7 linked regions of the Homo sapiens genome follow. The protein of the gene in region 6 purifies or fractionates together with the protein of the main gene of each other region. This does not show direct contact. Each region holds a gene or a part of one and is shown on either strand. Other genes may lie near its edges.

The links.
Region 1: the proteins of VCP (region 6) and BAG6 purify together in Homo sapiens (affinity purification with western blotting; 4 studies listed by BioGRID, with this or other methods). This does not show direct contact.
Region 2: the proteins of VCP (region 6) and STIP1 purify together in Homo sapiens (affinity purification with mass spectrometry; 4 studies listed by BioGRID, with this or other methods). This does not show direct contact.
Region 3: the proteins of VCP (region 6) and PSMA4 fractionate together in Homo sapiens (co-fractionation; 5 studies listed by BioGRID, with this or other methods). This does not show direct contact.
Region 4: the proteins of VCP (region 6) and TUBA1C purify together in Homo sapiens (affinity purification with mass spectrometry, with the first as the bait; 3 studies listed by BioGRID). This does not show direct contact.
Region 5: the proteins of VCP (region 6) and CANX purify together in Homo sapiens (affinity purification with mass spectrometry; 4 studies listed by BioGRID, with this or other methods). This does not show direct contact.
Region 7: the proteins of VCP (region 6) and SERBP1 purify together in Homo sapiens (affinity purification with mass spectrometry; 3 studies listed by BioGRID). This does not show direct contact.

The regions. Positions count from the first base shown.
Region 1 is NC_000006.12:31,646,162-31,649,661, reverse strand, and holds part of BAG6 (large proline-rich protein BAG6), read left to right. Parts: intron 1-34; coding exon 35-152; intron 153-266; coding exon 267-463; intron 464-697; coding exon 698-751; intron 752-910; coding exon 911-985; intron 986-1,835; coding exon 1,836-2,071; intron 2,072-3,138; coding exon 3,139-3,268; intron 3,269-3,500. UniProt on the Homo sapiens protein: ATP-independent molecular chaperone preventing the aggregation of misfolded and hydrophobic patches-containing proteins.
Region 2 is NC_000011.10:64,189,171-64,192,670, forward strand, and holds part of STIP1 (stress-induced-phosphoprotein 1), read left to right. Parts: intron 1-3,500. UniProt on the Homo sapiens protein: Acts as a co-chaperone for HSP90AA1. Mediates the association of the molecular chaperones HSPA8/HSC70 and HSP90.
Region 3 is NC_000015.10:78,543,444-78,546,943, forward strand, and holds part of PSMA4 (proteasome subunit alpha type-4), read left to right. Parts: intron 1-746; coding exon 747-824; intron 825-1,425; coding exon 1,426-1,514; intron 1,515-2,190; coding exon 2,191-2,321; intron 2,322-3,131; coding exon 3,132-3,255; intron 3,256-3,500. UniProt on the Homo sapiens protein: Component of the 20S core proteasome complex involved in the proteolytic degradation of most intracellular proteins. This complex plays numerous essential roles within the cell by associating with different regulatory particles.
Region 4 is NC_000012.12:49,271,582-49,275,081, forward strand, and holds the end of TUBA1C (tubulin alpha-1C chain), read left to right. Parts: intron 1-671; coding exon 672-1,646; 3' UTR 1,647-3,019; downstream 3,020-3,500. UniProt on the Homo sapiens protein: Tubulin is the major constituent of microtubules, a cylinder consisting of laterally associated linear protofilaments composed of alpha- and beta-tubulin heterodimers.
Region 5 is NC_000005.10:179,708,967-179,712,466, reverse strand, and holds part of CANX (calnexin isoform d precursor), read right to left. Parts: intron 3,490-3,500; coding exon 3,408-3,489; intron 2,595-3,407; coding exon 2,402-2,594; intron 1-2,401. UniProt on the Homo sapiens protein: Calcium-binding protein that interacts with newly synthesized monoglucosylated glycoproteins in the endoplasmic reticulum. It may act in assisting protein assembly and/or in the retention within the ER of unassembled protein subunits.
Region 6 is NC_000009.12:35,062,626-35,066,125, reverse strand, and holds part of VCP (transitional endoplasmic reticulum ATPase), read left to right. Parts: intron 1-744; coding exon 745-875; intron 876-1,840; coding exon 1,841-1,972; intron 1,973-3,045; coding exon 3,046-3,148; intron 3,149-3,500. UniProt on the Homo sapiens protein: Necessary for the fragmentation of Golgi stacks during mitosis and for their reassembly after mitosis. Involved in the formation of the transitional endoplasmic reticulum (tER).
Region 7 is NC_000001.11:67,410,357-67,413,402, reverse strand, and holds part of SERBP1 (SERPINE1 mRNA-binding protein 1), read left to right. Parts: intron 1-139; coding exon 140-196; 3' UTR 197-3,046. UniProt on the Homo sapiens protein: Ribosome-binding protein that promotes ribosome hibernation, a process during which ribosomes are stabilized in an inactive state and preserved from proteasomal degradation.

The sequences.
Region 1 (3,500 bases), on a different chromosome or scaffold from region 6:
TCTTTCCATTCCTGTGCATGCCTCTTCTTTTCAGATGAATGTAAAAGAGTTTAAGGAGCACATTGCTGCCTCTGTCAGCATCCCATCTGAAAAACAACGGCTCATTTACCAGGGACGAGTTCTGCAAGATGATAAGAAGCTTCAGGAATACAGTAAGGGGGCTGGGGAGGCAGTTCAGAGGTTGGGGCTACTGTCTGGAGGGATGAACTGAGGCCATGGGTTTACCTGTTCATACTATGTTTTGGTGTGTGTCTATTTTTCTGCAGATGTTGGGGGAAAGGTTATCCACCTGGTGGAACGGGCTCCTCCTCAGACTCACCTCCCTTCTGGGGCATCTTCTGGGACGGGGTCTGCCTCAGCCACTCATGGTGGGGGATCCCCCCCTGGTACTCGGGGGCCTGGGGCCTCTGTTCATGACCGGAATGCCAACAGCTATGTCATGGTTGGAACCTTCAATCTTCCTGTAAGCTTATGTTCCACAGGGGAGGGCTTTTGTGGGTAGCTTTGGTTGTGGTAGCACCAGGGAATTAATAAGATAGATGCTTCCATCTTTAGATTGGGTTCAGGGGGCCCTGTGGTGTGCTATTGGTCTCAGTCTTTAAGGAGAAAAGGAGGTAGGGCTCCAGGGAATGAATTGGAGGTGTGGAGGCCTTAGTGTTGGCTTCTCCCAGAACAACTTCCCTTACCCTTTCCCCAGAGTGACGGCTCTGCTGTGGATGTTCACATCAACATGGAACAGGCCCCGATTCAGGTATTGAGGGGCCTCCGAGGGTCAGGGAAGGGGATCTGGGAGAAGGAGGCTGGGAGGTGGGGTGGACCTGGCTGAGAGATGGCTGGGACCTGATTTAGTAGGTGGTAGAACTCATGGCTTCATCTGTAACCTACCCTGATAAACCTTCTCTCATTGTAGAGTGAGCCCCGGGTACGGCTGGTGATGGCTCAGCACATGATCAGGGATATACAGACCTTACTATCCCGGATGGAGGTAAGTGGGCAAGGCTGGCTAGGGTCTCTCTCCACCCTCCCTCTCCCTTTTCTCTCAGCCTGGGAGTTAGGGCTTCACTGGCCACATCCACAGGGTTTGGCCTTCATAATCTAGTCTTCTCTGCAGTATTCATTCTTTTGGGCAGAAAAAGTATCTTTGTGAGGCTCTCTCATTTCTGCCAATCCTCTTGGTGCCTGGTATCTGGGGAGTTTGTTTCAGACTTAGTCTCATGGCATCTCTTTTCAATTAAAGGATTCTACTCTCTTAACTTGTGGAGGCTGGGAAACCAACTTGTGGAGGAAAGGAAACCACAATCTCTACTCTTTGTTAGAAATTTATTTACAAATATTACAGATGCTGTGGCCGGGTGTGGTGGCTCCTGCCTGTAATCCCAGCACTTTGGGTCGCCATGGCAGGGGGATAACGTGTGGTCAGGAGTTCCAATCCAGCCTGGCCAACATGGTGAAACCCTGTCTCTACTACAAGTACAAAAATTAGTTGGGTGTGGTGGCACGCGCCTGTAGGCCTGGCTACTTAGAAGGCTGAGGCAAGAGAATTTCTTGAACCTGGGAGGCGGAGGTTACAGTGAGCTGAGATCATGCCACTGCACTCCAGCCTGGGCAACAGAGCGAGACTCTGTCTCAAAAAAAAAAAAAAAAATTACAGATGCTTATTATGCATCTAATTTGTGTCAGTCTTATGCTAGTTGCTAGCGAGTCGGAGATAAAATTGCAGAGCCATGCCTTCAGGGAGTCTAGTTAGGATACTTTCTCTGTTCAGTCTCCTGTAGAGTAATCCTCTGCAGCAGTCTTACCCTGCCTTTGGTATCCTGACTCTCCCCTACCTTCAGTGTCGAGGAGGGCCCCAACCGCAGCACAGTCAGCCGCCCCCGCAGCCACCGGCTGTGACCCCGGAGCCAGTAGCCTTGAGCTCTCAAACATCAGAACCAGTTGAAAGTGAAGCACCTCCCCGGGAGCCCATGGAGGCAGAAGAAGTGGAGGAGCGTGCCCCAGCCCAGAACCCGGAGCTCACTCCTGGCCCAGCCCCAGCGGGCCCAACACCTGCCCCGGAAACAAATGCACCCAAGTGAGAGATGGAGGGAATCTTTAGTGGGTGGGGAATCCTAAGTGAAGTATGGGGAGAAGGAAATGAACCATGGCAAGGGAGGGAAAGGATTACTTGGAGGTCTTAGTTGAAGGGTTAGCATTGAGGGGCGAGGAGGGGCTCTCTCGGTATAGGTAAATGACGCTAGGACAGGCAGCTGAGAAGAACTGCTGCTCTCCCTACGGCAAGGAAATCCAAATGGTATCTCCTGAGCCTGATCGGAATTCTCCTCTGAGTTCACGAAGGCCTGCTCTCTTTCTTAGAATTAGTCTTTCACCATTGTAGGTGCAGGATTGTGGTGGGGAGGGTGGGAGCAGTTCATTTTCTTCTCCCTATCCTCTCATGGGTGGGAGTAAAGAATAGAAGCTTTGGCTGGGTGCAGTGGCTCATGCCTGTAATCTCAGCACTTTGGGAGGCAGAGGCGGGCAGATCACCTGAGGTCAGGAGTTCGAGACCAGCCTGGCCAACATGGTGAAACCCTGTCTCTACTAAAAAATACAGGCCGGGCACAGTGGCTCACGCCTGTAATCCCAGCACTTTGGGAGGCCGAGGCGGGTGGATCATGAGGTCAAGAGATCGAGACTATCCTGGCTAACATGATGAAACCCCGTCTCTACTAAAAATACAAAAAATTAGCTGGGCATGGTGGCGGGCACCTGTAGTCCCAGCTACTCGGGAGGCTGAGTCAGGAGAATGGTGTGAACCCAGGAGACGGAGCTTGCAGTGAGCTGAGGTCGCACCACTGCACTCCAGCCTGGGTGATAGAGCGAGACTCTGTCTCAAAAAAAAAAAAAAAAAAAAAAAAACAAAAATTAGCCGGGTGTGGTGGCAGGCAACTTAATCCCAGCTACTTGGGAGGCAGAGGCAGGAGAATCGTTTGAACCTGGGAGGCGGAGGTTGAAGAGAATAGAAGCTCTGCTGGTCCAGAGAAGGATTGGGCCAGGGCTCTGGGAGACCAGGGAGAAAGAGGGCACATGTGGTCCCTGTTGACTGTGAGGGTGGGAATCTGAGGAAGGCTTTGGCTCATTGCCCCTTGGGTTTGTCCACAGCCATCCTTCCCCTGCGGAGTATGTCGAGGTGCTCCAGGAGCTACAGCGGCTGGAGAGTCGCCTCCAGCCCTTCTTGCAGCGCTACTACGAGGTTCTGGGTGCTGCTGCCACCACGGACTACAATAACAATGTGAGCCCTTTGATGGCCCTGCCCTTTCTCCTCAGCCCCAGTACTCCCAAAACAGAACAGGCTGAAATGCAGATAACTCTTTCCCTCCCTGGAAAAACATTGCAACAGGGCCAGGTGCAGTGGCTCACGCCTGTAATCCCAGCACTTTGGGAGGCCAAGGTGGGCGGATCATCTGAGATTGGGAGTTTGAGACCAGCCTGGCCAACATGGTGCAACCCCATCTCTACTGAAA
Region 2 (3,500 bases), on a different chromosome or scaffold from region 6:
GCCAATATGGTGAAACCCTGTCTCTATTAAAAATACAAAAATTAGCTGGATGTGGTGGCACGCGCCTGTAGTCCCGGCTACTTGGGAGGCTGAGGCAGGAGAATCGCTTGAACCCGGGAGGCGGACCTTGAAGTGAGCCGAGATTGCGCCACTGCACTCCAGACTGGGTAACAGCGAGACTCCGTCTCAAAAAAAAAAAATAAATAAATAAGCGGACATTGTGGTGCGCGCCTGTGGTCCCAGCTACGTGGGAGGCTGAGGCAGGACAATTGCTTGAACCTGGCTGGTCGAGGTTGCAGTGAGCCAAGATTGCGCCACTGCCCTCCAGCCTGAATGACAGCGAAACTGCATCTCCAAAAAAAAAAAGTTGGACAGATTTTGAATGTTCAGGCTTTTTTTTTTCAATAGGGGCCTTTCAAATCCCACAATGATACACTTCTTACATTTAACCCAACACAGGCGTACAGCCATGTAACACATTCAGCAAAACAGTATTTACTGTTATGTGCACTGTGTGCTGGTATTTTTTTGTCCCATTTGGTCTCTTAAAATGCTGGTCATGACCTACAAAATTGATTTCCTGACCCACTGTTGATCAGTACTCTGTTTGAAAAATGCTTTTCTAAAGCATAGGCAGGAACTTCACCAGCTGCCTCTTGACACCACTTGAGTTTTGTTAACTCTTCGTCTTCTGGCCTCCATCTTGGGCTCTAGGATTTTTTATCCCTTGTTTGCTTAATTTGGCAGGTTCCTTCTGCCCTTGCCTCTGTAAGGTCTCTGATTGATGGAAGTTCCTGATCTCTCTATTTGAGGATTCCAAAATCATTTCTCTCTTTTTTTTTTTTTTCCAAATAGAGTCTCACTCTGTCCTCCAGGTGAGAATGCAGTGGTGCAATCTCGGCTCACTGCAGCCTCCGACTCCCAGGTTCAGATGATTCTCCTGCCTCAGCCTGCTGAGTAGCTGGGACTACAGGCATGCACCACCACATCCGGGCAATTTATTTATTTATTTATTTTTTTGAGACTGAGTTTCGCTCTTGTTGCCCAGGCTGGAGTGCAATGACGCAATCTCAGCTTACTGCAACCTCCGCCTCCCAGGTTCTAGCAATTTTCCTGCCTCAGCCTCCCAAGTAGCTGGGATTACAGGCATGCACCACCACGCCCGGCTAATTTTTTTTGTATTTTTAGTAGAGACGGGGTTTCTCCATGTTGAGGCTGGTCTCGAACTCCTGACCTCAGGTGATCTGCCCACCTTGGCCTCCCAAAGTGCTGGGATTACAGGCGTGAGCCACTGCACCCGGCAGCAGCTAATTTTTGTATTTGTAGTAGAGACGGGGTTTCACCATGTTGGCCAGGCTGGTCTCGAACTCCTGACCTCAGTTAATCTACCCGCCTCAGCTTCCCAAAGTGCTGAGATTACAGCCTAAAATCATTTCTCTTGACAAAACTATTTCTTGCATCAATTTACTGGGTCGTGGGTGGATAATACATAGAATGAGTTAGTAACTTCGGTGACAACTCTATCTCACAGAACGTTTACCTCTTAAAAGTGTATTTTGGCCTGGTGTGGTGGTTCACCTTTGGGAGACTGAGGCAGGAGGGTTGCTTTAGGCCAAGAGTTTGAGACAAGCCTGGGCAATATGGTGAGACACCATTTCTACCACAAAAAGAAAAAAACATTTAGCCAGGCATGGTGACACACACTTGTAGTCCCAGCTACTTAAAAGGCTGAGTTGGCCGGGCGCAGTGGCTCATACCAGTAATCCCAGCACTTTGGGAGGCCAAGGCAGGCAGATCACCTGAGGCCAGGAGTTCAAGACCAGCCTGACCAACATGGAGAAACCCCGTCTCTACTAAAAATACAAAATTAGACGGATGTGGTAGTGCGTGTCTGTAATCCCAGCTACTCAGGAGGCTGAGGCAGGAGAATCGCTTGAACCTGGGAGGCAGAGGTTGTGGTGAGGCAAGATTGTGCTATTGCACTCCAGCCTGGGCAACCAGAGTGAAACTCTGTCTCAAAAAAAAAAAAAAAAAAGGGCTGAGTCAGGAGGATTGCTTGAGCCCAGGAGCTCAAGGTTACAGTCAGCTGTGATCATGCCACTGCACTCCAGGCTGGTAACAGAGTGAGATGCCATCTTTAAAAAAAAATAAATATGGCCAGGCGCGGTGGCTCACGCCTGTAATCCCAGCACTTTGGGAGGCTGAGATGGGTGGATTAAGAGGTCAGGAGTTCGAGACCAGCCTGGCCAACATGGTGAAACTCCATCTCTACTAAAAATACAAAAATTAGCTGGGCGTGGTGGCGGGTGACTGTAATCCCAGCTACTCAGGAGGCTGAGGCAGGAGAATCGCTTGAACCTAGGAGGCGGAGGTTGCCGTGAGGCAAGATTGTGCCACTACACTCCAGTCTGGGGACAGAGCAAGACTCTGTCTCAAAAAATAATAATAATAAATACAATGAGCTTCTCAAGGGGTTGCCTGCCCTCAGGTAGGCTGCTGTGGGGCACCTGACCTTTTGTGGGGCAGCTCAGTAAGGAGAAACCCTTTAGTGAGGACACTGTTCTGACAGGGCCAAGGCCTGCCTCACTTTTTTTTTTTTTTTAATGAAAAAGTAAAATTTAATGTGGAAAATGCAAACTTGGGGAGGGCAGAAAGATCACACACAAGGCTGTCACTTCACACTTGGAGGGTTGCACAGTGGCCCAACAGAGGCACACCTCACTTGCCAGACGGTGGGGCAGGTGGGCAGAGGTGCTCCTCTCTCCCCAGTCAGTTGGGTGGCCGGGCAGAGGCGCTCCTCACTTCCCAGTCGGTGGGGCGGCCAGGCAGAGCTGCCTCACTTTTTAAAACTGCTGTATCCCACCGGGCGCGGTGGCTCACACCTGTAATCCCAGCACTTTGGGAGGCCAAGGCGTGTGGATCACCTGAGGTCAGGAGTTTTAAGACCAGCCTGACCAATATGGTGAAACCCCGTCTCTACTAAAATTACAAAAATTAGCCAAGTGTGGGGGTGTGCGCCTGTAGTCCCAGCTACTTGGGAGGCTGAGGCAGGAGAATCGCTTGAACCTGGGAGGCGGAGGTTGCAGTGAGCCGAGATCGTGCCACTGCACTCCAGCCTGGGTGACAGAGTGAGACTCTGTCTCAAAAAACACAACAAAACAAAACCCCGCTGTATCCTTACTTCTTGCACTTTATATGTTTGAGAAGGGAGAGGTTTAAACCACAGTAGCATTTCTTCATCCTCCATCCCCTTTGTAATGTAATATTTAAGAATGGCAGGAATCAATTTGGGGAGCTAGCTTGACTGTTACCCATTAATGAACATTTATCTATCCTGTGGTGACATGTTGCCACACCAGGAAATGGAGACTGGTTCTTCCCTGATGGGAGGAGATGACAACTATGCCATAGGCAAGCATCTTGCCGCTCCCAAGAAAGAGAAGTCTCCGCTGCCATCCCACAGCCTTTGGGTCACTGGAGCATGTATCAGTGCCACTCCG
Region 3 (3,500 bases), on a different chromosome or scaffold from region 6:
GGAGCCTAGCCCTGTACTTCCTAAGCAGGCTTGTAAACCCTCCTGCCATTGTCCCCTGTCACCTCTGTCAAGCCAGGCCTTAGGAAATGAATATTACTCAAGAGCAGTCTGTCTAGCAAAATCTTTTTTTTTTTTTTTTTTTTGAGACAGATTCTTGCTCTGTCACCCAGGCTGGAGTACGGTGACGCCATCTTGGCTCACTGCAGCTTCTGCCTCCTGGGCTCAAGTGATCCTCCCACCTCAGCCGCCCAAGTAGCTGGGACTATAGGTGCGCACCACCACACCCAGTTAGTTTTTGTATATTTTGTTGAGATGGGATTTTGCCGTATTGCCCAGGCTGTTCTTGATCTCCTGGGCTCAAGCCCTCCATCTACCTCGGCCTCCCAAAGTGCTGGGATTACAGGCGTGAGCCATTGTGGCAAGCCTGTCTTTTTATTCTTTGTTGCTGAATCTTCTTGAGATTACATTAGCTTCTTGGCGTTAATTTTGTTATCCTATTCATAGGTGGTAATGATAAATACATCTATTAAATAACTTAAAGGGTGCATTTGTTTATCTTTCATGTTGAGTGACATCGAGTAAACATCTCCTACAAAGATAAAACTTGTAGGTTTTTTCTGAAGGAAGTAGCTGTTGTGAAGCAAACATAGTGAATTTCTAATAGAAATTAGAATTTTTTAAATACTTATAAACACTCCTTGCAAGCATCTTCCCTGCTTACAGATCAATGTCTTTTTTTCTTCAAGGGACATGGCTTGCAGTGTGGCAGGCATAACTTCTGATGCTAATGTTCTGACTAATGAACTAAGGCTCATTGCTCAAAGGTATGGTCATAAATAGCATAACTGATGATACAGAAATTAGTTTTGATGTTTCTTTTTTTTTTTTTTGAGACAGAGTCTCACTCTGTCACCCAGGCTGGAGTGCAGTGGCACGATCTTGGCTCACTGCAACCTCCGCCTCCCGGGTTCAAGCGATTCTCCTGCCTCAGCCTCCCAAGTAGCTGACCACCACACCGGGTTAATTTTTGTATTTTTAGTAGAGACGGGGTTTCACTGTGTTAGCCAGGATGGTCTCGATTTCCTGACCTCGTGATCCGCCTGCCTTGGCCTCCCAAAGTGCTGGGATTACAGGCATTAGCCACTGCACCTGGCCTAGTTTTGATGTTTCTAAGGAGAGCTCACTTTTGCAAAGATTAAAGTCATTAAAAATCTTTGAATTGAAAATTACAGATTTTTTTCAACCAAACTTACAAAATATTATTTACTATGAGAATATTCAGATGTTGACTTGTTCCCTCCCCTTCAAATTACAAATGACTGTTAGGTTGTCCCCATGGCATAGATTGCTTTTCAGAGAATATTTTCCTTAGAGTCTGTCTGTGTTTTAGAGAAAACTACTAATGTGCCCATCTCTTTATCCTAGGTATTTATTACAGTATCAGGAGCCAATACCTTGTGAGCAGTTGGTTACAGCGCTGTGTGATATCAAACAAGCTTATACACAATTTGGAGGTATTTAATTTTTTTGAAAATTTTATTCGAAAAAGTTAAGACATTTTATGAGTTATAACCCTTTTGAGGTAGTAAAAAATTGAAAATAGACCCTTTGTTTTAAATTAAATTTAATTTTTTTAATTGGCAAATAAGAATTGTACATATTCATGAGGTACATAATGATGTTTCAGTGCACATAATGATCAGATCAGGGTAAATGGCACATTCATCATCTCAAACACTTGTGTTGGGAGCCTTCCATATCCTTCTAGCTATTTGAAACTAATATGTTATGGTTAACTATATTAATCCTACAGTAGTATAGAACACTAGAATTTCATACATTCTTGCTTCATGAATGAACGTGTTCCTCCACCATGTAGATTACCCTCGTTTTATTAATAGGATATTGAAAGTCCAAAACAACATTTTCAAATCTGGAAACTAACTGCTGTTTACATAATAATGAAATTCAGCACTGGTCCTTTGTCTGTTCCCTCTTCTGGCTGTGTCCAAATCGTAGAAACAAAAGTCGAATTTGTAATGGAGCTTATCTATGGTAGCCAGAATACAAAACAGTTTATGAATGCTTAAGTTCACAGAGTAGGGTTTAGCTACCTTCACTGAGCTCAAGTAACTGTAGTGATACTAAATTTAGATTATTGATATGTTTGGCTTTTTTTCTTTGTTAAAGGAAAACGTCCCTTTGGTGTTTCATTGCTGTACATTGGCTGGGATAAGCACTATGGCTTTCAGCTCTATCAGAGTGACCCTAGTGGAAATTACGGGGGATGGAAGGCCACATGCATTGGAAATAATAGCGCTGTGAGTATTTTTGTTGTGCTATAAAATCTAGCAGAATGTCTAATAACTGCCATAATTTTGCCATGGTGATGAATGTAAACAGTATTTTAAGATAGCTGCAACAACCTTAATGTGATATGGAAATATCTGTGATTTCTGTTGGTGACAGCATTGCTGATATAGCTAATATACTGGGGTTCGTTAACTACATTAATAAATGCTAATTTTCAGTTAGGAGTTGTGAAATTAGAAGCTGTGATTTTGTTTCACATCTAGTTTACAGACCCCCTGTATTCTATGACAGACCCCTTGGGAGACTGAGGACCCCAGGTTAAAGACACTCTTTATAGAGCATTAGTACCCCCTCTTCTCACCCCGTGCCGTGTGTGCCCTCCCTGTCATCAAAATTATGTATATGGGCCAGGCATGGTGGCTCATGCCTGTAATCCCAACACTTTGGGAGGCCGAGGCAGGCAAATTGCTCGAGCTCAGGAGTTCGAGACCAGCCTGGGCAACATAGCAGAACCCCATCTCTACAAAAAATACAAAAATTTGCTGGGCGCCATGGCATGTGCCTGTAATCCTAGCTACCCAGGAGGCCAAGGTGGGAGGAGGAGCACCTGAGCCTGGGGAGACTTGAAGATACAGTGAGCTGAGATCATGCCACTACACTCCAGCCTGGGCAACAGAGTGAGCCCCTGTGTCAAAAAAAAAAAAAAAATTGTTTATACTTGTAATGCCAATAATAATTCAGGCATTTTTCTTCTAGACCAATTCATGTTTCTAAAAAATGTAAAAACTTAAAATTCTATGTTGATTCATGTTTTATAGGCAGCTGTGTCAATGTTGAAACAAGACTATAAAGAAGGAGAAATGACCTTGAAGTCAGCACTTGCTTTAGCTATCAAAGTACTAAATAAGACCATGGATGTTAGTAAACTCTCTGCTGAAAAAGGTAATTCATATCCTCTCCTTTAATTCTTTCGACTGAGTGAGGGAAATTAGCAGCTGTTAAGATTTTTTTCTTTTTTTTTTTTTTTTGAGATGGAGTCTCGCTCTGTTGCCAGGCTGGAGTGCAGTGGCGCAATCTCAGCTCACTGCAACCTCCGCCTCCTTGGTTCAAGTGATTCTCCTGCCTCAGCCTGCCGAGTAGCTGGGACTACAGGCTCGCGCCACCATGCCCAGCTAATTTTTGTATTT
Region 4 (3,500 bases), on a different chromosome or scaffold from region 6:
TGAATGTGGTCATACAGTAAGGAACTGGTACAGCCGGATCCTGACACAGCCTGACTCCAGTACCAGGGTGTTAGAACTTTGGCTATTCTGTTGTTCCACCTCAGAAAGCAGCTGCCAAATCTTTACAAGACATCCACTGTACCAGGCTGGTGGTCCTGGGCCTGCCCCTTAGGACCTCTCCAACTAAGAAACTGCCCTGTTCTGTGGCCACAGCAAGAGAACCAGAGGCTGCCTTCCCAGTTACCAAAACTTGAGCCCTGTATGCAAGCCCAGGCCTTGTGATTCCTCTGCCTAAGGCAATAGTTCATCTTAAAATAGTCTTAGCAAAGGTTTTTCTGCTCAAGGACTTGATTGTGAAAAGTTGTTCTGAATCACTTAGCACTTAAAAGCTTTTTTTTTTTTTTGGAGACAGGGTCTGCTCTGTCATCCAGGCTGGAGTGCAGTGGCCTGATCATCAGTCTTGAACCCCTGGGCTCAAATGCAAATGGTCCTCCCACCTTGGACCCCCAAAGTGTTGATTACAGGCGTGAGCCACTGCGCCTGGCCCAGAAGAGTTTTAAAATTGCAATTGGAGTAGCCATAGATTTATAGAAGTCCTCTGTAGGTTTCACCAAATGTGAACACTAAATGAAACTTTCGCAACACTAAAATGAAACTTTTTTATTTTGCAGGCTGACCAGTGCACCGGTCTTCAGGGCTTCTTGGTTTTCCACAGCTTTGGTGGGGGAACTGGTTCTGGGTTCACCTCGCTGCTCATGGAACGTCTCTCAGTTGATTATGGCAAGAAGTCCAAGCTGGAGTTCTCCATTTACCCGGCGCCCCAGGTTTCCACAGCTGTAGTTGAGCCCTACAACTCCATCCTCACCACCCACACCACCCTGGAGCACTCTGATTGTGCCTTCATGGTAGACAATGAGGCCATCTATGACATCTGTCGTAGAAACCTCGATATCGAGCGCCCAACCTACACTAACCTTAACCGCCTTATTAGCCAGATTGTGTCCTCCATCACTGCTTCCCTGAGATTTGATGGAGCCCTGAATGTTGACCTGACAGAATTCCAGACCAACCTGGTGCCCTACCCCCGCATCCACTTCCCTCTGGCCACATATGCCCCTGTCATCTCTGCTGAGAAAGCCTACCACGAACAGCTTACTGTAGCAGAGATCACCAATGCTTGCTTTGAGCCAGCCAACCAGATGGTGAAATGTGACCCTCGCCATGGTAAATACATGGCTTGCTGCCTGTTATACCGTGGTGACGTGGTTCCCAAAGATGTCAATGCTGCCATTGCCACCATCAAAACCAAGCGTACCATCCAGTTTGTGGATTGGTGCCCCACTGGCTTCAAGGTTGGCATTAATTACCAGCCTCCCACTGTGGTGCCTGGCGGAGACCTGGCCAAGGTACAGAGAGCTGTGTGCATGCTGAGCAATACCACAGCTGTTGCCGAGGCCTGGGCTCGCCTGGACCACAAGTTTGACCTGATGTATGCCAAGCGTGCCTTTGTTCACTGGTACGTGGGTGAGGGGATGGAGGAAGGCGAGTTTTCAGAGGCCCGTGAGGACATGGCTGCCCTTGAGAAGGATTATGAGGAGGTTGGAGCAGATAGTGCTGACGGAGAGGATGAGGGTGAAGAGTATTAACCTGTGTGCTGTACTTTTACACTCCTTTGTCTTGGAACTGTCTTATTTTTGTTCTGTAAATGTCTATTGCCGTAAATTGTTAATAAAATTGAAGTTTCCATTTTAAATGTCGAGCTGACTTAAATACTTGATCCAGTTAAAGTTGGATGTATGAGGCTGGTAGATGAAACCACCTGAGTCGAGGGTCTTGCTCTGTCACCCAGGCTGGAGTGCAGTGGCATGATAATACATAGCTCATTGCAGCCTCGAGCTCCTGGACTCATGTGATTCTCCTGCTTCAGCCTCCTAAGTAGCTGGGGACTGCAGGTGCACACCACCATGCCCAGCTATTTTTATTTCTTGTAGAGATGGGGCCTTGCTATGCTGCCCAGGGTGGTCTTCAACTGGCTTCAAGTGATCCTCCTGCCTCAACCTCTCAAAGTTTTGATTATAGGCATGAGCCACTGCCCAGCTTCTTGGTTTATCTGTTTAATTTGGGCCTGAATTAAGTGGTTATAGAATCATTTTGTAAGTGAGGAAACGGGTTCAGATTGAGCCAGTGCTTCTCTAACTAAAATGGATGTGAATCACCTGTAGATATTAAAATGCAGGTTTGGGGTCAACCTGGTGGCTCATGCACTTCGGGAGGCCAAGTTGGGTGGATCACGAGCCCAGGAATTCGAGACCAGCCTGGGCAACATGGTGAAAACCCATCTCTACCAAAACAAAAATTTGCATGCTGTGATGGCACCTGCCTATAGGTGGGAGGACCACCTGAGCCCAAGGAGGTTGAGGTAGTGAGCCATGATTGCACCACTGCATTCCAGCCTGGGTGACGGAGACCCCTGACTCTCAAATTTAAAAACAAAATGCAGGTTCTAATTCTATAGGCTTGAGGTGAGGCTTCAGACACGTCTTAAATTTTTTTTCTTTGAGATGGTCTCTTTCCCAGGCTGCAGTGCAATGGCACCATCATAGCTCACCCCCACCTTGACCTGGGCTAAGCCATCCTCCCACCTCAGCCTCCCAAGTAGCCAGGACTACAGGTGTGTTCCACCATGCCTGGCTGATTCTTGTAATTTTTTTTTTTTTTTTTTTTTTTTTTTTTGGTAGAGATGGGGTTTTGCCATGTTGCTTAGGCTGGCCTTGAACTCCTGGGCTCAGGCAATCCTGCCTCAGCCTCCCAAAGTGCTGGGATTACAGGAGTGAGCCACTACACCTGGCCCCTAGATACGTTTTTTAATAACCTCCCAAATGATGCTGTTGGTCTGATGTGACCACATGTACAGTAGCAAAGGGTTAGATAACAGTAACTGCTGGAGCCAAAATTCAAGTGCCCAGCCACACTGCCAGAACTATTGCTGTCAGTCTTTAATAAAGTATTAGTCACACGAGAAGGGCTTGGAATCCTGATTTATTCCATACTTAGCTAAGACCTACAGTGGCAAAGATGGTTCGTACTAAAGGGGTTATTGTTTAGAGAAAGTGGAAATGTCAGACAAAATAACAGTCACCGGTTTTTCTGGTATTGGCATTTGACCCAATTGTATGTCATGGAGATTATTTGAAGTAGGAGTAATATGTATGTGTAGGAAAGATTGGAGAGGGGTGAGTTCTCTGATTTGGACTTTTTTCCAAGCACCTGTTGGAGGACCGTGGTTCTTGGGGGCAGACGGGTGAAGGGGCATGAGTGTTATACGTAGCTGGAGAGCTTGGTGCCTGGTACTCAGTTGAACTAAGCAATGGGAAAGGACAATGACCAAAAGGTGAAGCTTCATGCAGAAGGGAGGAATCAGTTTTGGTGCTTGGGTGCTTGCCTGAGTGGGAATGCCTAATGAGTGGTAGCAGATGGGCCCTGGGGGCAGAGTTGCAGGC
Region 5 (3,500 bases), on a different chromosome or scaffold from region 6:
AGCCTGGGGAACAAGAGTGAAACTCCATCTCAAAAAAAAAAAAGGTTATTATATTCTTCAGAAAGAGGCATGCCTATTTATGATCTCAAACTAGCAGGAAAAGCTTCAATAAACAAACAAACCAAAAAAAACCCTGTATCAAAATGATTCAACTCAATTGTCAATTGTCCAGGTATTGGAGCATCCAAATAAGTTCAACTACAAGATACTTCTGAAAAACTATTTTTATTGGATTTATGTATAATTATAAATATAACTTATTCTATTATTCAACATTTCTCAACAACAACAACAAAAAAAAGGAAGAAATTAGATCAGCAAAGCTCTTTGTAGAAAAAAAAAAAAAAAACACCTTTTTTTTTGGAGTGGGGGACGGAGTCTCACTGTGTTGCCCAGGCTGGAGTGCAATGGCATGACCTTGGCTCACCGTGACCTCCGCCTCCCGGGTTCAAGTGATTCTCCTGCCTCAGCCTCCTGAGTATCTGAGATTATAGGCGCCCACCACCCCACCCGGCTAATTTTTGTATTTTCAGTAGAGATGACGTTTCACCATGTTGGCCAGGCTGGTCTTGAACACCTGACCTCAAGTGATCTGCTCGCCTCAGCCTCCCATCGTGCTGGGATTACAGGCATGAGCCACCATGTCCAGCAAAAAATACCAATTTTTTTTTTTTTTTTTTTGAGACAGAGTCTTCCTGTCGCCCAGGCTGGAGTGCAGTGTCACAATCTGGCTCACTGCAACCTCCGCTTCCAGGGTTCAAGCAATTCTCCTGCCTCAGCCTCCTGAGTAGCTGGGATTACAGGCACCCTCCACCATGCCCGGCTAATTTTTGTATTTTTAGTAGAGATGGGGCTTCACCATGTTGGCCAGGCTGGTCTTAAACTCCTGACCTCAGGTGATCCGCCCACCTCGGCCACCCAAAGTGCTGGGATTATAGGCACGAGCCACCATGCCTGGCCAAAAACACCTATTCTATTCTTAAAATTATCTCGAACCTCAGTTCCTGTGGAAAAGAAGTTTTTTGGGTTTTTTGTTTTGTTTTTTGAGACAGCATCTCACTTTGTCACCCAGGCTACAGTGCAGTGGCAAGATCATGGCTCACTACAGTCTCGACTTCCTGGGCTCAAGCAATCCTCATACCTCAGCCTCCTGAGTAGCTGAAACTACAGGCACATGCCACTATACTCAGTTAATTCTTAAGATTTTGTAGAGACAGGGTCTGACTATGTTGTCAGGCTGGTTTGGAACTCCTGGACTCAAGCAATCCATCCGATTCAGCCTCCCGAAGTGTTAGGATTACAGGTGTGGGCCACCATACGTGGCCAAGAAGCTTCTTTTAATGCTGACAAATTAAGGTCATTTCCCAACTAAGATACTAAAGTGAAGAGATTCTTTTCTTTCGTGGAGGGGGTACAGAATCTTCCTCTGCCACCCAGGCTGGAGTGCAGTGATACAATCTTGACTCAACTGCAACCTCTGCCTCCTGGGTTAACGTAATTCTGCTGCCTCAGCCTCCCGAGTAGCTAGGATTACACCAGCTACTCAACACCACGCCCAGCTAATTTTTGTATTTTTAGTAGAGACGGGGTTTTACCATGTTGGCCATGCTAGTCTCGAATGCCTGATCTCAAGTGATCCGCCCGCCTCAGCCTCCCAAAGTGCTGGGATTACACGCATGAGCAACCATACCAGGCTGAGATTCTTCTTGTTTGGAGGCTGGGGTACTCTCCAGATATACAATCTTTTTTTTTTTTTTTTGAGATGGAGTCTTGCTCTGTCTCCTAGGCTGGAGTGCAGTGGCGCGATCTCGGCTCACTGCAAGCTCTGCCTCCCGGGTTCGTGCCATTCTCCTGCCTCAGCCTCCCAAGTAGCTGCGACTACAGGTGCCCACCACCACGCCCGGCTAATATTTTTGTATTTTTAGTAGAGACGGGGTTTCACCATGTTAGCCAGGATGGTCTCGATCTCCTGACCTTGTGATCCACCCGCCTCGGCCTCCCAAAGTGCTGGGATTACAGGTGTGAGCCACCGCGCCCAGCCTTTTTTTTTTTTTTTGAGATTGAGTCTCACTTTCGCCCAGGCTGGAATGCTGTGGCACAATGATCTTGGCTCCCTCCCAGGTTCAAGCAATTCTCCTGCCTCAGCCTCCCAACTAGCTTCGGTTACAGGCGTGCACCACCATGCCTAGCTAATATTTGTATTTTTAGTAGAGGTGAAGTTTCAACATTTTGGCCAGACTGTTCTCGAATTCCTGATCTCAGGTGATCTGCCCATCTCGGCCTCCCAAAGTGCTGGGATTACAGGCGTGAGCCACAGTGCCCGGCCAGATATACAATCTTTAAATTAAATGGATGATATATATGTAATACCATAAGCCCCCAAACTAATGCTTTTTCTTACTTAGTGTGTAAAGATGTGTTTTCTTATCAGTAAAATAGGTCTTCAGATCTGCATCTGGCCTCTTAGCATGTTTTTCTTCATAGATACCCGTTTTGGGGTTTTTGTGTCGGAAGATGAAGTGCAGTTTATAGTCCTCTCCACATTTATCTGGACCAAACATAATCGTATAAGGGGTCTTGTCATGGAACTGATCCTTCAAAAACAAAAAAGGATTATTTGAAGTCACTGTACTCAAAGTGTTCAAAAGCAACGTTTCAAAAGTGTATGATAATTCCTCTTATAAAATTCCAAATATATTAGTGACAGTTAAAGGAAAAGCTAACTACAAGTTTGTTTAGTAAAAAGGAATAACCAGCAATCATCAGTAAATTTAAAATAACGTTTAAGTGTCTAAAAAAAAGTAATGCACACATCTAGACAGTTATTGCTTCCTCATAAAACAAAGAAATAAGCTTGCCAAAACTAAAACTTACACAGAAGCAAAACCAGAAATTCAGATAAAAACAGTTGGTAACAACTTTGTAATTTACACTTCAAATAAAAAGCACGTTAGCGTCAAAGTCAATTTTCCCAACTCATCAAAAGAGTTAAACAGCAGGGGAGGAAGCCTTTATTTTCACAATTATTACAAAATTCTCTTTTTTTTTTTTTTGAGATGGAGTCTCGCTCTGTCGCCCAGGCTGGAGTGCAGTGGCGCAATCTCGGCTCACTGCAAGTTCCGCCTCCCAGGTTCATGCCATTCTCCTGCCTCAGCCTCCCAAGTGGCTGGGACTACAGGCGCCTGCCACCACGCCTGGCTAATTTTTTGTATTTTTAGTAGAGATGGGGTTTCACCATGTTAGCCAGATAGTCTCAATCTCCTGACCTCGTGATCCGCCTGCCTTGGCTTCCCAAAGTGCTGGGAGCTAGGATTACAGGCGTGAGCCACTGCACCCGGCCCAATTACAAAATTCTTACAAGGTAATAGTGGGTGTCCAGCCACATTCCAGAAATGGGAATTACATACCAGGTTGAGTTCTGGTGTTTTAGAAAGCAGTTTCACATAGGCACCACCACATTCTATTCCATTTTGGAAATTAACCTCATACCTAATATCAGA
Region 6 (3,500 bases):
GAGACAGAGTGTCGCGCTGTCCCCCAGGCTGGAGCGCAGTGGTGCAATCTCGGCTCACTGCAACCTCCGCCTCCTGGGTTCAAGCAATTCTCCTGCCTCAGCCTCCCAAGTAGCTGGGATTACAGGCGTCTGCCACCACGCCCGGCTAATTTTTGTGTTTTTAGTAGAGACGGGGTTTCACCATGTTGGTCAGGCTCGTCTCGAACTCTTGACCTCAGGTGAGCCACTGTGCCCGGCCGCTAGACTCATTTTCATATATTTGTATACACACACATGCAAACCCTGCACACATATTCATATGTCTTACCCTCTTTTTTTCCTCCATCCTTCCTTTGCTCCATCTCTCCCCTTCTCTGTTCCAGGAGAGTAAGCTATCTTTATGGATCTCTGAAGGAGAAAGTGGTCCATTTTGGCTGGGTCAGGGTCCAGAGTGCACAGTTCTACCATTGGTGGTTGTAGTGAAAACTTGGGCTACCTATATGGCAGAAGTCAGAACTTGATGGGCTTCTGACATGTCAGGTTTTGTTCACTGACCTCTTGTCAGAGGGACTCTTCACAGTTTACCTTTCTCATCTTGCCTGCTGCTTATTAAGACAGGTGGGGTGGAGTTGGGGAGAGGTAGGGCAATATCTAATGAAGGGCACTATCTAATGAGCTTGGCATTTTGACCCCAGGGTCTGATGAGTTCTCACTTTGTCTTGTAGTTGACACCTCTAACTGTGCTTGTACTGTTTGCTCTCGCAGGAGACATTTTTCTTGTCCGTGGTGGGATGCGTGCTGTGGAGTTCAAAGTGGTGGAAACAGATCCTAGCCCTTATTGCATTGTTGCTCCAGACACAGTGATCCACTGCGAAGGGGAGCCTATCAAACGAGAGGTGAGTTTTCTCCCTGATTCCAGTATCCGATTTTATGATTACTCAGTGTGGCATCATGTGGTAACTGTCAGGACTGGGTGCTCGGCCGGCTGCGGTGGCTGACACCTGTAATCCCAGTACTTTGGGAGACTGAGATGGGCAGATCACTTGAGGTCAGGTGTTCAAGACCAGCCTGGGCAACATGGTGAAATCCCATCTCTACTAAAAATACAAAAATTAGCCAGGCATGGTGGTACACATCTGTAATCCCAGCTACTCAGGAGGCTGAGGCAGGAGAATCGGTTGAACCCAGGAGTCGGAGGTTGCAGTGAGCTGAGATTGTGCCACTGCACTCCAGCCTGGGTGACAGAGTGAGACTCTGTCTCAAAAAAGAAAAAGACTGGGTGTTCTTTGGAGAACTAACCATCTTTCAGGGATGAGAAACCTGCCAGCTATTCATTTCTGGGCCTAATTGTTTCTTGGATTTACCTAATGCCAGGAATTTCAAAAAACTAGACTGAACCCAAAATATATAAGTGATTGAAATCATTTTTGAAGTAAAGCTGATGGTGGCTTCAGGCCTCTGCCCATTCCCAGGGTTTCCAGCTTCAGATTTTAGAGACCCCTTCTCAGTAAGACTACGAGTAATGTGAGAGGCAAGGACTGTGCTAGAAATCTTTGCCTTGGGATTTTTGTAGTTGTTCTTTGAGGCCGGATCCCTTTAGAGGAGAATCTTTTTTAAATTTAATTTAATTTTTAATGAGATGGAGTCTTGCTGTATTGCCCAGGAACTCCTGGACTCAAGCATTCCTCCCACCTCTGCCTCCCAAAGTGCTGGGATTACAGATGTGAGCCACCATGCCGGGTTGAGAATCTTCTTATACGGTAGGTTTTTGCACACTAGGTAGTGGAATGATTTAGAGAAACTCAGCTTTTGCTGATATAATATTCTTGCCTTCTCCTTTCTTTATCTCCTCCATATTCAGGATGAGGAAGAGTCCTTGAATGAAGTAGGGTATGATGACATTGGTGGCTGCAGGAAGCAGCTAGCTCAGATAAAGGAGATGGTGGAACTGCCCCTGAGACATCCTGCCCTCTTTAAGGCAATTGGTGTGAAGGTGAGCATCCTGGGCTCTGGAATCAAGTCTAAAGTGGTGCCAATGTCTAATCCTGTCCCAATGTCTAATCCTGGGACTGTTTTCATGCATGGCTTTCATTATTGCCTTGGATTAGAGGGGCAATAACGTATCCTTTAGTTTACCTAAGGCTCTAAATTCATTAGAGCTGATGGTCTAAAACCAGAGTAGGCTAATCAAATTGTCTGTTGTGTGCGTGTGCGCACAAAACACACACACATATATATATGGGTTTTTCTTTACAACTCTTAGAATATAAAAGCCATTCTTGTATCAATGGACCCTGTAAAAACAAATCTCACCATAGTTTGCCAGCCTGTCTAGAGCAATGTCACCCAGTAGAAGTAAGGAAGTTAAGGAAATTTTCAGAGTGTTAAAGGGTTCTGAGTCTAAAACATTTGAGAACTATTGGTCTAGAGTGTAGCTTCTCAATCTTTTCCTAGTGGGAAAGTGTTTCCATGGAACACACTGAAGATGAAGTTACTCATTTTCCTAGTGGGTGGCACACAAATAATTTCATTTTCTATGTGGACAGTTTACATGTTCTGCTTGTGGATGAGGCCATAGAAAGGGTAGTGTTGAAGAAGAAAAATGATGATTGTAAGGAACAGCATTCCAGTGTGATAAATTCTGGAGGGCATGATTACTGGAGTGAGTGATCCTCTGGCAATGAAGAAAATAGACCCTGCTCTCTTAAATGGCTTAGCTAGTCTTTGGCCCTTGGTCTGTCTAAAATTGAGCCCTTAGTGTAATGGCCTCTTGCCTTTCCCTAGTCATGTATCTTCAAACGCATTTGGACTACAGTTTCTCTGCCCTTAGTCTCCTATGCAAGTTGCAATCATAAATGTTGCCCACTTTCTAGCAGTATTTTCCCTGCTAGTAATAGAAATGAGTGTGGCCTAAAGTAATTGTCTTCTTAGCATTTACTGCGGAGGGCTTATTCTTAATATTGTCAGGGTTGAAGCCTGATTCTCACCCTCTCTGGAGCGCTAGTCAAGCCATTTTAGGGTTTGGGAGAAGGTGGGAACCTAATCACACTCTGCATTGGTCCACAGCCTCCTAGAGGAATCCTGCTTTACGGACCTCCTGGAACAGGAAAGACCCTGATTGCTCGAGCTGTAGCAAATGAGACTGGAGCCTTCTTCTTCTTGATCAATGGTGAGATATTTGGTTCATCTTATGTCTAGCTAGACCCAATTTTGAACTGGGCTTATGAGCTGGAGCACTTATGAACACATCCTTTTTGCACCCATGCCCTCCTTCATGTTTATAGCATATTTCTTATGCTGGGGTATGTTACAGACAGAAGAGCAATAAAGGGAAGATATTTTACATTGGTGCTCCCTGTCCTGCCCCCTTTGAGAAAGATTGTGGACAGACTGCAGAGCGGGAGCAAGCTAGAATGAGAAATCAAAGGGTGAATGGTTAGTGATTTGAGAGGGTTTGGGGCAAATGAACTTTGATCACTGGCTCTTGGAGAATGCTGTTTAGTGGTGTGCCATCTGGTGTG
Region 7 (3,046 bases), on a different chromosome or scaffold from region 6:
CGCTGGGATTACAGGTGTGAGCCACTGTGCCTGGCCAACAGTAAGATTTTTTTAGAGTTCTGTCTTAATGTAGACACTAGCTAACAATGTAATTTTGAAGAACTGAGAACTGTGGTTAATTTTGGTTTTTCTTTTTCAGTCAAGTGCTTCTGCTCCTGATGTGGATGACCCAGAGGCATTCCCAGCTCTGGCTTAACTGGATGCCATAAGACAACCCTGGTTCCTTTGTGAACCCTTCTGTTCAAAGCTTTTGCATGCTTAAGGATTCCAAACGACTAAGAAATTAAAAAAAAAAAGACTGTCATTCATACCATTCACACCTAAAGACTGAATTTTATCTGTTTTAAAAATGAACTTCTCCCGCTACACAGAAGTAACAAATATGGTAGTCAGTTTTGTATTTAGAAATGTATTGGTAGCAGGGATGTTTTCATAATTTTCAGAGATTATGCATTCTTCATGAATACTTTTGTATTGCTGCTTGCAAATATGCATTTCCAAACTTGAAATATAGGTGTGAACAGTGTGTACCAGTTTAAAGCTTTCACTTCATTTGTGTTTTTTAATTAAGGATTTAGAAGTTCCCCCAATTACAAACTGGTTTTAAATATTGGACATACTGGTTTTAATACCTGCTTTGCATATTCACACATGGTCAACTGGGACATGTTAAACTTTGATTTGTCAAATTTTATGCTGTGTGGAATACTAACTATATGTATTTTAACTTAGTTTTAATATTTTCATTTTTGGGGAAAAATCTTTTTTCACTTCTCATGATAGCTGTTATATATATATGCTAAATCTTTATATACAGAAATATCAGTACTTGAACAAATTCAAAGCACATTTGGTTTATTAACCCTTGCTCCTTGCATGGCTCATTAGGTTCAAATTATAACTGATTTACATTTTCAGCTATATTTACTTTTTAAATGCTTGAGTTTCCCATTTTAAAATCTAAACTAGACATCTTAATTGGTGAAAGTTGTTTAAACTACTTATTGTTGGTAGGCACATCGTGTCAAGTGAAGTAGTTTTATAGGTATGGGTTTTTTCTCCCCCTTCACCAGGGTGGGTGGAATAAGTTGATTTGGCCAATGTGTAATATTTAAACTGTTCTGTAAAATAAGTGTCTGGCCATTTGGTATGATTTCTGTGTGTGAAAGGTCCCAAAATCAAAATGGTACATCCATAATCAGCCACCATTTAACCCTTCCTTGTTCTAAAACAAAAACCAAAGGGCGCTGGTTGGTAGGGTGAGGTGGGGGAGTATTTTAATTTTTGGAATTTGGGAAGCAGACAGCTTTACTTTGTAAGGTTGGAACAGCAGCACTATACATGAAATATAAACCAAAAACCTTTACTGTTTCTAAATTTCCTAGATTGCTATTATTTGGTTGTAAGTTGAGTATTCCACAGAAAGTGGTAATTATCTCTTCTCTCTTCCTCCATTAGAAAATTAGGTAAATAATGGATTCCTATAATGGGAGCATCACCACTTATTAAAACACACATAGAATGATGAATTAAAAAAGTTTTCTAGGATTGTCTTTTATTCTGCCACATTTATTGATAAACAGTGAAGGAATTTTTAAAAAATTTTTAAGAATTGTTTGTCACGTCATTTTTAGAAATGTTCTACCTGTATATGGTAATGTCCAGTTTTAAAAATATTGGACATCTTCAATCTTAAACATTTCTATTTAGCTGATTGGTTCTCACATATACTTCTAAAAGAAACTTTTATGTTATAAGAGTTACTTTTTGGATAAGATTTATTAATCTCAGTTACCTACTATTCTGACATTTTAGGAAGGAGGTAATTGTTTTTAATGATGGATAAACTTGTGCTGGTGTTTTGGATCTTATGATGCTGAGCATGTTCTGCACTGGTGCTAATGTCTAATATAATTTTATATTTACACACATACGTGCTACCCAGAGATTAATTTAGTCCATATGAACTATTGACCCATTGTTCATTGAGACAGCAACATACGCACTCCTAAATCAGTGTGTTTAGACTTTTCAAGTATCTAACTCATTTCCAAACATGTACCATGTTTTATAAACCTCTTGATTTCCAGCAACATACTATAGAAAACACCTGCTACTCAAAACACAACTTCTCAGTGTCATCCATTGCTGTCGTGAGAGACAACATAGCAATATCTGGTATGTTGCAAGCTTTCAAGATAGCCTGAACTTAAAAAGTTGGTGCATTAGTTGTATCTGATGGATATAAATTTGCCTCCTAGTTCACTTTGTGTCAAGAGCTAAAACTGTGAACCTAACTTTCTCTTATTGGTGGGTAATAACTGAAAATAAAGATTTATTTTCATGCTCACTTCTTAAAAGTCATAAAAACAATCAAATAGGATCATGTTTATTGTCATGTGTTTCCTGGTTTCTGACCTGTGTGCACACCCCTGTGTGTTTATAATTTTTAAATTGAATTTTATATGGGGTTTTTATTTGCTAAAAACCAGGCTGTTGAATCACATTTGGGAAGGGTACTTATCTTAATGACTAATGACTTAATTGGGAAAGTTGAATTCTTGTAAAATACAAAATCCAAGGACTTCTTGGATTTAATCTGATTGTCACTTCTTAGCAGATCACTTTTTTGATAATGAAAGTTAAGCATACTGAATGCTACTTTTGATTGACAAACTGGCTATAATAGTCTAGGGGAAAAATCCCTAAACAGATAAAGATTCCTAAAGTAATGGTGGCAGCTGATGTTTCAGTGAACTTTTATCTTGATGCGTTTAAATGGAAGTAATGCCAGACCTGAGATTTTTAAGGCATTTTTACAGCTTGTATTGAAATGATTGGAGACATGGTTTCTTTATTAGCTATTTTGAGACCTGTGGAGTTAAGCAAGACTTTTAAAAATTGGCACCATATACATCTAGTTAGTTCCTTTACTCTTATTTTTTTAAATAAAAGTAGTACACATCATTTCCAGGGTTGTAAATATATTTGGGGCTTGTTTTTGGTATGGATTTAAAAGGAGGATATTAAGTATTCATTCTAATTT